Linked DNA regions of Homo sapiens: region 1 is linked to region 2. The links come from fine-mapping of genetic effects on plasma protein levels. A gene starts in region 2. The other region holds a variant in brackets. All regions are shown on one strand. Distances are from middle to middle.

Region 1 (8,338 bases), 67 kb before region 2:
AACATTTATATTATGGTTATAACCACCAGCTGTTGATAATGACTACATTTCTTATCTCCTTTCCTTCCTTAGTCTTTATTAAAATAAGTTTAATAGTAAAATGATAAAATATTAATAAAGGAATAAAAACTTATAGACATATAAAAATAAAGATCAGGAAAAAAGATGGTAACATACAAGATTTCAACTGATTTTCAGAATCTGCAAAGGGAAGTAAGCGTAACTGTTAGCATGGTAGAGAAAGACACTACTTATATGTACGGAGGAGGTAGTGAACAAGCTGAGAGTTCGTCGATGGCATCCTGCAAAATCACAGAAAGGGTTAAGACTTCAGGCAAAAGTGAAGGTCAGGTGTGGGGCTGAAAATAGGAGGATGGGTTGAAAGTGTGTGTGAAAGACCTGTCGGTTCCCTCCTTTTTACTACCCCCGGACATACCTACAACCATACAGAATTCCTAGGAGGGACACAGAAGGTTTATTCTCTTAGAAATCTTTGTTTGTTTGTTTGTTTGTTTGTTTGTTTGTTTGTTGAGACGGAGTCTCGCTCTGTCGCCAGGCTGGAGTGCAGTGGGGCGATGTCGGCTCACTGCAAGCTCCGCCTCCCGGTTCAAGCGATTCCCCTGCCTCAGCCTCAGATGGGACTACAGGCACACGCCACCACGCCCAGCTAATTTTTTTTGTATTTTTAGTAAAGACGGTGTTTCACCATGTTGGCCAGGATGGTCTCAATCTCTTGACCTTTAATCCGCCTGCCTCGGCCTCCCGAAGTGCTGGGATTACAGGCGTGAGCCACCGCGCCCGGCCGAGAAATCTTAATAGGAACAAATCAAGTCACACAGATGTCAGAATTGATAGTAGAAATACAGTAACAACACACTGAATTTCATTCTCGCCAGATTAGATTACAGTTTAGAGTCATGCTGAATTTAATGTAAAGACTATTAATTCCAATAAATATATAGGCCTACTATGTACACACAAAAATTTAAAATTAAAATCTTAATGGAAACATCTCTAGTGTTTTCTCATTAAATAAGATACTGACTAAAAGACTAGGCTATACATACTATATTGTGTTAAGAAAGTATGTCTCAATTCCTATTTTGAGCGTTTCTTTTTTAAAGTAACGAGTGGTTGTTGACTTTTGTCAAAGACCTTGTCAGCATTGATGGACATAATTATGAGTTTTTCCTTGGATTTTCTAATGTGACATATAGTTGTGACACTTTTATATGCCAATTTGAGTGGGCCACTGGGTGCCCAGATATTTGGTTAAATATAATTCTGGATGTGTCTGCAAAAGTGTTTCCATAAAATATTAGCATTTGAATTGGTAGGCTAAGTAAGTAAAGCTGATGGCCCTCTTCAGTGTGGGTGGGTGTCATCTAATCCGTTGAGAGCCTAAGCAAAACAAAATGGCTTAGAAAGGGAGAATTCACTCTCTCTGCCTGACTGCTTGAGCTGGAAAATTGGTCCCAGGCCTTCAAATTTGGGCTAGAACTTACAGCATAGATTCTCTTGGTTCTCAAGCCTTCAGGCTTAGCCTGGAACTATATCACTGGCTTTCCTCAGTTCCAGCTTGCAGATAGCCAATTATGGGGCTTCTCAGCCTCCACAATCATGGGAGCCAATAACCTATGAAAAATCTCTTTATATATACTGTCATGCATCACTTAATGCTGGGAATATGTTCTGAGAAATGCATTGTTAGGCAATTTTGTCATTGTGCAAACACCATATAGCATACGTACGCCAACCTAGATCGTATAGCCTACTACGCACCTAGGCTATATGGCATAACCTGTTACTCCTAGGCTACAAACCTGTACAACATGTTATTATACTGAATACTGTAGGCAACTGTAACACAAGGGTATTTGTGTATCTAAACATACCTAAACATAGAAAATGTATGGTAAAAATATCATTTATAGGCCGGGCGCGGTGGCTCACGCTTGTAATCCCAGCACTTTGGGAGGCCGAGGCGGGTGGATCACGAGGTCAGGAGATCGAGACCACGGTGAAACCCCGTCTCTACTAAAAATAAAAAAAAAATTAGCTGGGCGTGGTGGCGGGCGCCTGTAGTCCCAGCTACTCGGAGAGGCTGAGGCAGGAGAATGGCGTGAACCCGGGAGGCGGAGCTTGCAGTGAGCCGAGACTGCGCCACTGCACTCCAGCCTGGGTGACAGAGCGAGACTCCGTCTCAAAAAAAAAAAAAAAAAAAAATCATTTATAATCTTATGAGGCCAATGTTGTATGTAATCCATTGTTAATGGAAACATCATTATACAGCACATGACTATATAGATATATGTATTTTATTGGTTCTGCTTCTCTAGAAAACCCTAATACAATAGTATTAATGGAGTTTCTAATATCGAACCAAGTTTGCAGTCCCCAAATAAATCCCACTTAGCAATGGTGTACTATTTTCTTAGTGTGGTTTTAGATTCTATTTGCTAATAATTTACTTAACATTTTTTCATTGATATTCAAAAGTGACATAGATCGGTAGGGTTTTTTTTTCTTTGTACTGTCTTTGTCTGGTTTAGGTACTAACATTATTCCTATTTCATAAAAACAGTTTGGAAATTTTCTTTCATTTTCCATGCTCTGAAATAATTTATAAGCTGTTAGGACCTGGTCTTTCAAAACTTGGTAGAATTCACTCGTGAAAACATCTGGGCCTGGCGTTTTTTTTTTTGCAGGGTGATTTCTTAATAACTGTCTTCATTTCTTCTATGGAAATTGGTTAAATTTTGTAAACCTAACAGAGCTAATTTTGGTAAAATGTATTTCTGTAAGAAATTATGCACTTCATCCAGATTTTCCAATTTATTTGTCTAGAGGTCAGCAAAGTAGTCTCTTCTGACTTTTAAAATTTCTTTTGTTTGAAAGGTTATTTCGCCCTTTTCACTTCTTACTCTACATATTATACTTTCTTTGTTCTTCATCAATTTAGTTAGTAGTTTGCCTATTTTATTTCGTCCCCCAAAAAGCCAAGATTTCAATTTGTTAGAGCTACTGTTTTTCTATTCTTTATTTCACTAATCTCTGCTTTTATCTTTACTGTTTTCTTTTGTTTTAAACTGTTCTAATTGTTTGAACTATAAATTTAATTCATTATTTTTGTCCTTTCACTTTTAGAGAAAAGGTAGTGTAATTAATTTTTCTCTAAGTACTGTTTTAAATACATCCCATAGATTCTAATACGTAGTGTTTTTATTATCTATTATTTGTTTAAAATAATGTATTTCAGCCAGGCACGGTGGCTCATGCCTGTAATCCCAGCACTTTGGGAGGCCGAGGTGGGCCGATCACGAAGTCAGGAGATCGAGACCAGCCTGGCTAACACGGTGAAACCCCGTCTCTACTAAAAATACAAAAAAATTAGCCGGGCGTGGTGGCGGGCGCTTGTAGTCCCAGCTGCTGGGGAGGCTGAGGCAGGAGAATGGCGTGAACTGGGGAGGCAGAGCCAGCAGTGAGCTGAGATCGCACCACTCTACTCCAGCCTGGGCGACAGAGCGAGACTCCATCTCAAAAAAAAATAAGTAAATAAATGTATTTCAGCTTGTATTTCTCATTTCAGCCAAGAGTTATTTAATAAGAAGTTTTTTGTTTTTTTTTTACATTTCCAGGTCTACATTATCTAATATAGATATTGCTACCCCTGCTCCCTCTTTATTTCCATTTGCCTGGTATATGGTTTTTTCATCCTTTTATTCTCACCTACCCTTTCTGAATCTTTTTGTTTTAGGTGTGCCTGCTATCTACTATATAGCTGTGCTTTAGTTTTGTCAGACGAATTGAGAGTCTTTTGGTCTTAATAGGTGAATTAAACCTATTCACATTTATTGCTATGAGTGACATGTTTGGTATTAATCATAACATTTTATTATATTTTGTTATATTTCCTGTGTTTATGAGATTTGTATTCTTTACTATTTTATTTATGGTTTTCTAGAAAAGTTTATATTTTTATCTTAGTGGTTACCTTTGTATTTATATCTTTTTCAGTGCTCTTGGTCCCCCGTTTGTTAATTAACCTTTTGTTGTCTTGTTTATCAGGCTTGCTTTTTTTCCAGTATCTCTTAACATCCCCCTATTACTCCTCAAACAATGAGCTTTTTCTACTTTTCTTTCTCCCTCTTCTTATACTGCCTATTTTTAAGATATATTATTTCTACTTTATCATAATATATAACATTTGTATGCTAGTTTTCCATCCTCATCTCCACCTTTGTTTTAGTTTTATGTATAGTTATAGATTATTAAATGCTTACCATCAGTTCTTTTACTCAAGTTTCTCCTGCCATTACTGGTTGGATGAAAGTTCATTCTCTAATAAATTCCTCAAAAGGATTTATTGATACAGAATTCTCTACATTTTTGTATATTGAGACTGTTTCTCTATAGTCGTCACATTGAGGGGCAATTTAGCTGAAAATAAAGTTCTTAATTCACAATTTATTTGAGTGAGTGCCTTAAAAACTTGTTCCTCAGTTGTTTGACTTTGTATTGTTTTATGAAGTCTGATGCTAGTCTAATTTTCCTCTTTGCATATTTGATCTTGTTACCTGGAGATTTTAAGGACTTCATCTTTGGGTCTATGAATTTTACTAGGATGTGTCTCAGAGTTGATCATTCTGGATGAATTTTCTCATGTACCTAAGTGAGCTCTTTCAATTCATAGATTCAGCTTTTTATTTTTGGAAAGTTTTTTGGATTATAATTTTAAATATTAGTTCTGTTTCATTATTTTATTTGCTTT[T/C]TCAGGGACTTTGATAGTACAAATATTATTACTTGTTGCCTATCTTGAAGTTCCAGTTCCCTACTTTCTCTTTGATACTTTCTAAAGAAAAATTTGCCTTCTGCAAAACTGCACACAAAAAATAATAGACTTATGTGAAAAACAGGATTAAGTCAGGTTGCTAAAGACCAATGCAACTTTATAAATTAGAGCACTAACAAATGTACTTAAATAACAATTATAATGAAAATATCACAATTTAAAGGACACCTTAACTTTCTAAAAATAAAGACATTTTAAGTTGATACAAAAAAGTGAAGCTAGGGACATTTTATAAAATGGCTGGCTTATACTCTTCAAAAATGGCAGGGTCATAAAAGACAAAGGAAGGCTAAGGAGCTTATTCAGATTAGAGGAGACAAAAAACACACAACCAAGAAAAGCAAAAAGAGCTCTCATGCCACAAAAAGACATGGACGAAACCTAAATGCACATTGCATAGGCCAGTCTAAAAAGGCTCTATGGGAGAGAAAGATGTATAAGTGGAGTACGGGGTATTTTCAGGGAGTGAAATTGTTCTGTAATAGTGGATACTTGTCCTTATACCTTTGTCAAAACCCACTGAATATACAACGCAAAGAGTGTATTGTAAACTCTGGACTTTAATTAACAGCAATGTGTCAATATTGGCTCATCAATTGTAACAAATGTGCCACACCAATGCCAGATGTTAATAATAGGACAAACTATGGAGGGGAGACAGGAGAGAGGTATTTGGGAACTCTCTGTTCTTTCTACTCTATTAATTAAAAAAAAAAAAAAAAAAAAAAAAGACCTAACAGCTAAATGCAACATGTAATCCTGGACCAGGAAATACATTTTTTCCTTTGCTGTAAAGGACATTATTGGGACAATCTATTAAATTTGAATAAGGGCTACAGATTAAATAATAATATTGTATTAAAATATGTATAATTATCAATGTATTTTTTCTGATTTTGATCATTTTACTGTAGTTATATAAGAGAATGTTCTTGTTTTTAGGAAATACACAATTAAGGATTAGGGATTAATGGATGTTATGTATGTAAATCATCCAAATAACTCAGAAAAAAACCAATATAGACAGATAAAGATAAAGCAATTGTGGTAACCTGTTAACATTTAGGGAACCTGGGTGAAGAGTACATTAGAACTTTTTGTACTGTTATTGAAACTTTTCTGTCAGCCTGTAATTATTTTAAAAGAAGTTGAAAATTAAATCAGCTTAATAGAAGAGAATATAAGGAAAGTTTGCTGTTGCTGAGTTATGAAGACCAGGTAAAAATGCACAAAAGTCAGGGAAACAATGTAGTAAGCAATTGCAAGACAGACCATATGGTGGGACTCAGCCCAGAGGAAGCGTGTGGGGTAAGCATGCATGGCTGACTCATCTGTGTTCATGGACTTTGCATTCAGCTGCTATTATACAGTGACACACAATGTTAATCTGTAAGGAGAAAACTTAAATATGAACCAATGCCACTTCTGTGTTCATGGATAACATATCCTTGTTTACCAATTGCATATGGGCTAATTAGCCTTGCAGAAACAGATATGTAGCATTGAGACTGTATTTGTATTCCCATTTTGCAGATCCCAAACTAAGGCTTAGAGGGGATGAGAAACTTTACCCAAGCCATATTGTTGCTAAGCAGCCAAGGTGGTTGTGGAAGAGATGACAATGTTCACCGTAGACTCATGCTTGCTTCCGTAGTGTGGAGCTATTGCTGAGAAGGGGTTCGCTCTCCAGAAACTGCATAAGCCAGGCTCCTTTGCATCTCAGGGAAGCCCTGTGACTAAGTTCTGTCTAATAGCATACAAAGAAGTGATGCACACCTCGGCTAGAACTGGCCCACAAAAATACCTTCACGATTTCCCAGGTGTTCTCTCTCTTGTAATCTACTAGCTGAATGGAGAGAACACCAAGGACCTAGAGGAGGGTGGGAGCCACAATGTCCTAGGGGTATGAGTCCTTGAATGACCACATGGAAAGCCACCTAACCAAGAACATTATACTCTGAAAATTTGAGATTTTTTTTTTTCTTTTGAGATGGAGTGTCACTCTGTTGCCCAGGCTGGAGTGCAATGGCACGATCTTGGCTCACTGCAACCTCCGCCTCCTGGGTTCAAGCGATTCTCCTCCTGCCTCAGCCTCTCGAGTAGCTGGGATTACAGACATCCGCCACCACGCCTGGCTAATTTTTGTATTTTTAGTAGAGACAGGGTTTCACCATGTTGGCCAGGCTGGTCTTGAACTCCTGACCTCAGGTAATCTGCCATCCCCAGCCTCCTAAAGTGCTGGGATTACAGGCGTGACCCACCACAGCCAGCCTGAGATTTATTTTCAATAGCGCTAACATTAACAAATAAAATACACTGGTGCTGGTCCTTGAAGCTGTGTCAGACTAACTCAAAGAGCCATATTTCCAGCAGCAATCCTATACTGTCTCCAACAATAAAAGCCCAAAGTAAAAATTTATGAAAAAAAAAAAGTGTCTGATTCACTGGGACAATAAGAATGTACAGAATCAGGTTTCACATTTTACTTAATTGTACTCTCCCTGGAAGCCTGAATGTCTGTGTGTCTCCACAACGCATGTGTGCCATTCCATATATCCTGGAAGTGGGAACTCTAAGTCCTTCAGCTTACCTAAGAAATGACTTTGTCCAAGATCCTCCTGTTCACATTTGATCCTATGGTCACAGGCTCAAGCCTAACTCCTAGACTCCAGTTTCACAGCATCAGCCCCGAACATCCTGGGCAGGAACTCACTAGGGAGGATGCTCTGAGAACCTCAAGCTGTCTCTCCCATGTCACTCAACCCCTCCCAGCAGCCACCTAGGTAATAACTGGTTGGCAATTCTTATTTAATCACATTTCTTAAGCCACCCTCCTGAGCCAGTCTCTGAAAACCTGCCCTTTCAGATGCCATAACATGGATTGTTTTATTACAAAAGTAAGCCTGTTCGATGCATTTTACCCAGTCAGCTGTGGTTAAGAGGTTTAACTTTTGTAGATGCCTTGAATCATTAAAAACGACATCATCTCAGGCTTTGAGCCAAAGTACCGTAAAACCCAAATCTTCATAATGAGAATTACTATAACATTGTCGGCAGATCAAACTTCTCTATAGTTTGCTTGTTCATAAAGCTGCATTAGCTCTTTAGCAAGCAAGACACGTACATCCCTATTCTCCAGTGAAATAATAACAACACATATCTCATAAGGCTCAGTACAAAAATAAAAATAATGGCAATAATTGTTAACAGTTATTGAGTGCTCTCAATAATAACATTTCAAGAATTAGAAGCCACAAAGAGTAGTGGGAAAGGTCCCAACCATGAGTCAAACCTTCTGCAATCTAATCTCTATTTTACTTTAAACAGCAATGTGACCTTGGGCAAATCACGTAAGCTTCAAATTCCACATCTGTAAAATGAGAATATATAAGCTGCCTTTAATATAAGGTTGCTGTGGAAGATCAAATGAGAGATTCTGGTAAGTTGTAAAGCATACCATTTTGGCCTGGGGCCTACACAGAGGTA
Region 2 (8,338 bases):
GATAATGGCATGGTGGATATGATTTTTGAAAGTTCTTATCAGATGTGCATATTGAAGTTGGGATATGCTTTATAATACTTTAGCAAAAAAAGTGGGGGACATAGTAGGGAGGAGGGTAGGGAAGAATTGTCTATCAACAAATGTTGATAATTGTTGAAGCTGATAACTGTTGAACTCATTAGGGCTGAGGTTGATTATACTATTATCTCTCTTTTTGCATATGTTTAACTTTTCCCACAAGAAAATGTTACAGGAAAAATTATTTAGCTTTCTCCAACCTGGGTTGGTATAAGTCACTGATTGTGACTATCCCAAAAGTTGGTTCAACATTAAGGTAATGTTTGTTAGGAAAAAAAATTAGATCGACACGTTATTTAGTATCCCAGGTTTTTGAGCATTTATTTAAAAAATTCGCTATAATGAGAGATGATTATAAATTTTTGTTATATTTCTGAGATGATCAATTTTAACAGGATTGGTGGTAATTTTTCAATCATAAACTGATAAAGTTTGATGACTGATAAATCGCCCCAATATATAGCAAATCTATTCAATTATTTTGTTTTCATAAGGGAACAACCTTGGTGGAAAGTACAGCTGTCTCCATGTACAAGGAGAAGCACATAGCTCACGTGTGCATCTGGCAGAACCCCCAGTACAGAGACAAGCAGGTGCTGTTTTCCAATGACACCTACTTGTGTGTGTCCTAATACTATAGTTAGAAAATGGCTCAGATTTTTGAGTTGCTTTTCCCAGAACTCAAAGATTGTCTTCCTGTTTATCTTGGTGGAATGCCTATGCTATACTTGTGATTTTTCTGTTCTCTGTAACCTATTAAAACAAGATTGTCACAGATGGGGAAACAAGAGGTCATTAGTTAACAATCAGATGTTCGATTTCTTGAGCAGAAAAGATACTCTGTTGTGTTTTTAAAAACATTTTTAAAGGAGAAATAGGGCTACTCCTTGGAAGGCAGATTGTTGTTCAGTGGGCTTTCCTCAAGAGTCAACACAGTCGTTTCTAAATTCATTTCCTCCTTCAATTCTGTTCTTGTAGTTAACATAAGCTTTGCCTCTTTTAGTTCTTGTCAGTTCACAGTGGCTACTTCTTTATAGCTTAACTAAATACTGCCAGAAGAGCAAAGGGAAGCCAAATAGGTGGTCAATTAGCTTTGTCTAAGTTGGTATGATATGGAGAGGAAAGCACTGTTACTTTAATTCATTCTTCAGTTTCTAGAACAGTTGCTTTTGATTAGGTTAGGGGCAGAAAAACATTTGTAATAATTAATGGCTTTGAGAGACACAAGGCTTTGTTTGCCCCAGAGTATTAGTTAACCCACCTAGTGCTCCTAATCATACAATATTAAGGATTGGGAGGGACATTCATTGCCTCACTCTCTATTTGTTTCACCTTCTGTAAAATTGGTAGAATAATAGTACCCACTTCATAGCATTGTATGATGATTAAATTGGTTAATATTTTTAAAATGCTTAGAACACAGATTGGGCACATAACAGCAAGCACCACATGTGTTTATAAGATAAATTCCTTTGTGTTGCCTTCCGTTAAAGTTTAAATAAGTAAATAAATAAATAAATACTTGCATGACATTTTGAAGTCTCTCTATAACATCTGAGTAAGTGGCGGCTGCGACAATGCTACTGGAGTTCCAGAATCGTGTTGGTGACAAGATTGTTCACCAGCATATGGTGTGGTGAAAACTCACTAATTTGGAATTAGTTCAGATTATTAAGCCTGAATAGGTGAAAATCCTGAAATCAAGGATCTTTGGAACTATTTGAAATCAGTATTTTATATTTTCCTGTTGTATTCATTAAAGTGTTGCAAGTGTTCTATTTGATGGATTAAGTATATTTAGGATATACATGTTCAATTTGTGATTTTGTATACTTAATTGGAACAAGAAAGCTAATAAAGGTTTTGATATGGACATCTATTCTTTTAAGTAAACTTCAATGAAAATATATGAGTAGAGCATATAGAGATGTAAATAATTTGTGGACACACCACAGACTGAAATAGCAAATTTAAAAGAAATTGTTGGAAGAATCAAGTGTTTGTGGAATGAGTCCTCCTAGTAAAGTTCCTGCTCTTGTGAATAATTAAGCCTCATGTATAATTACTATAGCAAAAGGAAGCCTAAGAAGTATTAGACTCTACTTGTATTTAAATTACATTTTACATAATTTATGTGTATGAAAAATGTTTTAAATGCTTATTTTCGTAAGCCATGAGATAGCTCCTTTATATTTTAAGAATTTCTGAATTAATTTGCTTGGATTTTATTAGTGCAAATGGCAGAGCTAGCAATTCCTTTTTCTGTGTTCCCATTCCATCCTATTCATCCCTCTTTTAGGAAACTCTGAACTCTGGATTGTCCTTGTTTACATACCTGCCTCCTGCATTGGACTATGTGTCTCTGAGTGTAGTATGACTAATTCATTTGTTTGTCAAGGACTCTCAATGCATTTGTTGAACAGCCTAATTAGTAATGTCTGCAACAATGACATTTTACTGTATTTAATAAAGCTCTGGGAAAGTAGGATACACATAAGACAGGTCTAGGTCTAAATTCTTTACAGAAACTTGGATTTTTAGTTCGGTTTGAAATTTGAAGATGTGAGTATATTTATCTCAGTTTCCCAAAGGACAAGCTAATTGGAATTATCATCCTCTTTCACTTGATTGGATCCCCAGAATGCCATTTACGCATGCAGCAGGATTTTATAACAGTTTTAAATTCTGTATATTTGATGAAGAGGTTTTATATTTTTGGATTCAAGCCTCTTTTTAAACTTCTACAATATGGTTTACAATAATTCCTTATATCCTGCTTTTGAAATACATATTACAACTTTTTAAGTTTGGAAGGCTATATTTCAAGGACTGAAGTTACAGTATACTCAAGTGATACACAAGCCTAGCACCCCACTTTCCACATAGTGTTCGATAAAGATTGATAAACTCGAAATCACAGACCTTTTAATTCTTAAGACAAATAGCAGCAGAAAGAAACATCTTTGGCTTATTTCTGGTAAGGTTTTTATGCTCTGTAAAACAAAGAATTGTATTCATCCGCGCAGCACAGATTCTATTAAAAATAAATGTGAGAGTCGTTAATGTAGTACTGCTCATTTACCATCAAAATTCACTTTTCAGGAATAATCCCATCAGTTTAAATTGGATATTGGAATGAGCATTGATTACATTTAACTTGGTAGCCCAAAATTTCTTCATGGGGTTTTGAACTCGGCGGGATTTCAAAGGTTTTAAAAATGAGTTTTTGATTTTTTTTAAAACCCTCAAATTTCATTACCTTTAAACTAGGTCGAAACGGGGCGCAAGAGATTGGATTAACACCATAGTAATACTTATTTTGTTCTTAACCATTTCAGGGCTTCTTGAAATAGAGGCTGTATGGTGTAATGGAAAAAACAGCCTTGGAATCTGGGAGCCTGATTCCTGGATTCAGTCCCAGTTTTGCGTGACCTTGGGCAAGTTACTTTACTTCTCTGAATTTCCGTTTCCTCCTCTGCAAAATGAGGATCGCAATAGCCACCTTGCAACCTTGACTGGAGCGAGCCTCGCACACCCCGCGCCGGCCTGGAGGAAGAGCAGCCATGATTACGCCGCCTTCGCTCCGCTACCCGCTTGCGGCTGGCGCCCTCCTCCAGCAGGTGTAGGCGCTGCCGCGCTGCCCCACGCCTTTCCGCCGCTCGCGGGCCTGCGCCTCGGCGTCCCCGAGGAGGCCGCTGCGGGCTGAGGTAGCGCACCGGCCTCTCGGCGTCCCAGTCCGGTCCCGGGCGGAGGGAAAGCGGGCGACCCACCTCCGAGGCAGAAGCCGAGGCCCGGCCCCGCCGAGTGCGGAGGAGCGCAGGCAGCCCCCGCCCCTCGGCCCTCCCCCCGGCCCTCCCGGCCCTCCCTCCGCCCCCTCCGCCCTCGCGCGCCGCCCGCCCGGGTCGCCGCGGGGCCGTGGTGTACGTGCAGAGCGCGCAGAGCGAGTGGCGCCCGTATGCCCTGCGCTCCTCCACAGCCTGGGCCGGGCCGCCCGGGACGCTGAGGCGGCGGCGGCGGCCGAGGGGGCCGGTCTTGCGCTCCCCAGGCCCGCGCGCCTGAGCCCAGGTTGCCATTCGCCGCACAGGCCCTATTCTCTCAGCCCTCGGCGGCGATGAGGCGCTGAGGCGGCTGCCGGCGCTGCGCCGGAGCTTAGGACTCGGAAGCGGCCGGGCCGAGGGCGTGGGGTGCCGGCCTCCCTGAGGCGAGGGTAGCGGGTGCATGGCGCAGTAACGGCCCCTATCTCTCTCCCCGCTCCCCAGCCTCGGGCGAGGCCGTCCGGCCGCTACCCCTCCTGCTCGGCCGCCGCAGTCGCCGTCGCCGCCGCCGCCGCCGCCATGGCCAATGACAGCGGCGGGCCCGGCGGGCCGAGCCCGAGCGAGCGAGACCGGCAGTACTGCGAGCTGTGCGGGAAGATGGAGAACCTGCTGCGCTGCAGCCGCTGCCGCAGCTCCTTCTACTGCTGCAAGGAGCACCAGCGTCAGGACTGGAAGAAGCACAAGCTCGTGTGCCAGGGCAGCGAGGGCGCCCTCGGCCACGGAGTGGGCCCACACCAGCATTCCGGCCCCGCGCCGCCGGCTGCAGTGCCGCCGCCCAGGGCCGGGGCCCGGGAGCCCAGGAAGGCAGCGGCGCGCCGGGACAACGCCTCCGGGGACGCGGCCAAGGGAAAAGTAAAGGCCAAGCCCCCGGCCGACCCAGCGGCGGCCGCGTCGCCGTGTCGTGCGGCCGCCGGCGGCCAGGGCTCGGCGGTGGCTGCCGAAGCCGAGCCCGGCAAGGAGGAGCCGCCGGCCCGCTCATCGCTGTTCCAGGAGAAGGCGAACCTGTACCCCCCAAGCAACACGCCCGGGGATGCGCTGAGCCCCGGCGGCGGCCTGCGGCCCAACGGGCAGACGAAGCCCCTGCCGGCGCTGAAGCTGGCGCTCGAGTACATCGTGCCGTGCATGAACAAGCACGGCATCTGTGTGGTGGACGACTTCCTCGGCAAGGAGACCGGACAGCAGATCGGCGACGAGGTGCGCGCCCTGCACGACACCGGGAAGTTCACGGACGGGCAGCTGGTCAGCCAGAAGAGTGACTCGTCCAAGGACATCCGAGGCGATAAGATCACCTGGATCGAGGGCAAGGAGCCCGGCTGCGAAACCATTGGGCTGCTCATGAGCAGCATGGACGACCTGATACGCCACTGTAACGGGAAGCTGGGCAGCTACAAAATCAATGGCCGGACGAAAGTAAGTGTGTGCTGCGGGTTTGTGCTGGACAGGCCCTTCTCGGCGGGCAGCCCCTGCCTGCGACTGAAACTGCCTAGGCTGAGAAGCAGCATTCCTCTATATAGAAGGGACTCGCTCTTTCTTGTGTAGCTCCCCGTAAGGAAGACGGACAGAATTTGTAGTAGCTGTTTATCTAGTTAGCCCCTTTGTATCCACTGTTTTCCACTTACTGCCCGTTCACAAACTTCTCCGGCTAATTGCATGGTTTTTTGACTCAACGTAGGCGCTTTAACTTTCCTATTTTCTTTTTTCCATTCCACTATTGGTCACAATTCAAACCTTAGTGGCGTTTTAGCCACCCAGTGAAGGGGTGTTAGAGTACCACCCAAAGCAAGTCCTGGTTCTGCATCTGCCTTGTGTTTGCATAAGCTGTTAAATTTCCTATGGTGTCTGAACCACTCATCACATTTCGATTGAGAGTCAAACGCTGTGTTCAGTTAGGAATTTGCCGGCTGACCGCAAAAAGGTACATTTAAAATAAGCATTTAGTCGAAAGACTCTGTATTCAGGAAGAGCTTGGCTACTCCCCTCCCCCTGTTATAGCTCTTATCCCTCACCCTGTTCCTACTGTTTTGAAACCCGTTACAAAAAGGGGAAAGAAGTATTTCCGTCTTCAGGCCTCTCAGTGTAGGTAGGCTACATTTTTAGCACCAGTTTCCTTTATTTGCTTTGTTAATGTAATCCTTCTGTTGAAAACTGTTTTGTAACTTCCTGGAAAACAAAACAAAACAAAACAACAACACGGAATTGGCGCAGGAGGGCTCGTTTTATCCTCCCAATTTGGTGAGATCTTTTTGTTTTCTCTTTACTATTGCGGTTTTTCCTCCACAGATTTCTTCACTTCTTACCTAGTCTATTCCCTCTTTCCTCCCTCATGATAAACAGTAGACTCTTTCGTCCTTAACCAACTCTCTTGCAGCTCTTTTTCATTTTACTTCTCAGATCTTGATCTTTTCTTTGTGGCTGCTCCCAGGCCACCCTCCTCCACCATCAGTCTCTGATTTTGTGGGTTTTGAGAGATTGACCTGGGAGAGCATCACAGTTGCATGTTTGTACACACACGCTGACTCTAACTAGTGGTTTTTCTGTATGTGTGTGTCAGATCATCTACTTTGACAGTCATTACATGTGATTCTCAGGCTGCCCGAAAGACTGAACATAGGCAGTGAGAAAGTTATAAACGTGAACATTTTGTGGGGAAAAATACAATGTGGAGTCTAATTTACCTATTGCCACTTCATTGCTGGATGAAGGCACAAGTCTTAATTTCTTGTAGTCTTAAAAAGGAACAGTTGAATAATATTAAACTGGAAGGAAAAGGGGGATCTGATGAAATTTCAGCGTTGGTCTTTCACTAGATTTTCATTGATAAAATTTTTAAGAAAGTTGTCAGGGCACAACTTTAAGAAATTGTCACATCTGAACATAAAGTCCTGAGCTCCAGAGCAGGAAAGAAATTAGTTTGAGACAATAGGGCTGTGAAGACTGACCAAAGTATATAGTTGGGACATAAGCTTAAATTGGATTCTTGAAGAAGATGATGTCCCAAATCTTTCTTGATCTGCTTTCCTTAGTTAATTTAGCTTTCCAAGTTAAGCTGAGACCTCTTTTCTCTTTTGTCTTCCTGCTTTCACCTGTCCTTAGAGAAGGGACAGCAGACAGCCTGGCTCTTAGAGCAAATGCTTCTCATAGAGATGCTATTAGGAAATAGGTACCTCCTTCCTCAAGAGTTCTAGTTGTTGGGGTTTTAAGTCACGTAACTGTACATATTAGCAGGTAATAAGGGACAGGATGAAGGAGGGATGACCTTTAAACTCTTTGGATTTGATCTGCTTATATTAATTTTAGGGACGCAACTTCAGGATCTATAAATGATATTCAGGAATTCCTTTCATTGTACTTCTTGGCTGAAAGAGGTTTTGGTAATCGTGTTTGAACATGTAATTTATTCCTAAAAAACAAGGGTGTTTGCTTTGTGGAAATGAGAAGGCAATCAAAATAACCACCCACCGTATATTGAGCAACCAACCACAGTGTGTTAGGCATCATATTAGGATCAATACAGATACAATCAGAGTATTTTTTTTTTTTTTTTTGGAGACAGGGTCTTGCTTTGTTGCCCTGGCTGGAGTACAAGGGTGTAAGCATGGCCCACTGCAGCTTCCACCTCCTGGACTCAAGCTATCCTGCCATCTCAGCTTCCGAGTAGCTGGGACTGTAGGCACACACCACCATACTTGGCCAAATGAAAAAAAATTTTTTTTGTAGAGTCAGGGTCTTGCTGATCATTTGATCTCGAACTCCTCGGCTCAGGGGATCCTCCTGCCTTGTCCTCCCAAAGTACTGTGGTTACAGACTTGAACCACCTCACCTGGCCACAATAATCTTAATTCTGTGAAGTGAGTAGTGTTATTCCTAATTTACATTTGAGGGATTTTCAGCTCAGACTTGGCAGAGGTCTACCACTTACTATAACCCTGGCTGGTGTTCAAACTTAAGTCATTCAGATATCAAACCCATGCTCTTTTTTAACTACGCTAGTTATAGGTAGAACATTAAATGAGATGTAGATTATTTAGCACACTGCTGGAACTGCAATTTGATACATATATTTTGTTGAAAGTGGGTGAATAGCACTAGCTTTATATGTGAGTAATCATACTCTATGGTTGGGCTGTGTAAAACTTTTTATTAGGTGACTGTACAATGTTTATTTCAGATAGTGGCTTAAAAGCCACTTTTGTATTTATCCACCTGAATTATGCGCCTGTCAGTATACTGTTAACAGATGTCAGAATATGGTTTTTTTATGTGATTGCAGAGGGAGACTTCAATTCAGAATTTTATCCTTCATAACATTATAGTGATTTTAAAAGTTATATGCAGCAAATGTGTAGTATTTTTCTCATTTCAACTTTCACAGCAGTAGGCAGGTGGTTGTATCCCTTTTTTTATAGATTAGAAAAGTGGGACTCAGGAAAAGTTAGTTCACTTGT

Direction of the effects. Alleles are on the strand shown, and positions count from the first base shown. The strength of an association depends on the size of the effect and on how common the allele is.
For the plasma level of the protein whose gene starts at base 4,014 in region 2, allele T in region 1 goes with a lower level than allele C (moderate association).

The links. A credible set is the group of variants that fine-mapping cannot tell apart. PIP is the chance, under the fine-mapping model, that this variant and not a neighbour inherited with it causes the effect. Protein levels are from antibody-based Olink assays in UK Biobank. Linkage for the fine-mapping came from a reference panel and not from the study's own genotypes, which makes the PIPs less certain.
Region 1: its variant is the best candidate, but not a certain one, in a credible set for the plasma level of the EGLN1 protein (UK Biobank, PIP 0.65).

The regions. Positions count from the first base shown.
Region 1 is chr1:231,485,057-231,493,394 of GRCh38, reverse strand. No RefSeq gene overlaps it. Among named protein-coding and RNA genes, the nearest start is that of TSNAX-DT, 39 kb to the left of the region's middle. The variant T/C (reference allele first, on the strand shown) is at 4,772.
Region 2 is chr1:231,417,963-231,426,300 of GRCh38, reverse strand. EGLN1 (egl-9 family hypoxia inducible factor 1) reads left to right here and starts at 4,014. Exons shown (of 5, transcript NM_022051.3): 1 at 4,014-5,303. The coding sequence starts at 4,413. RefSeq lists silencers at 3,549-3,873, 3,629-4,808 and an enhancer at 5,189-5,458.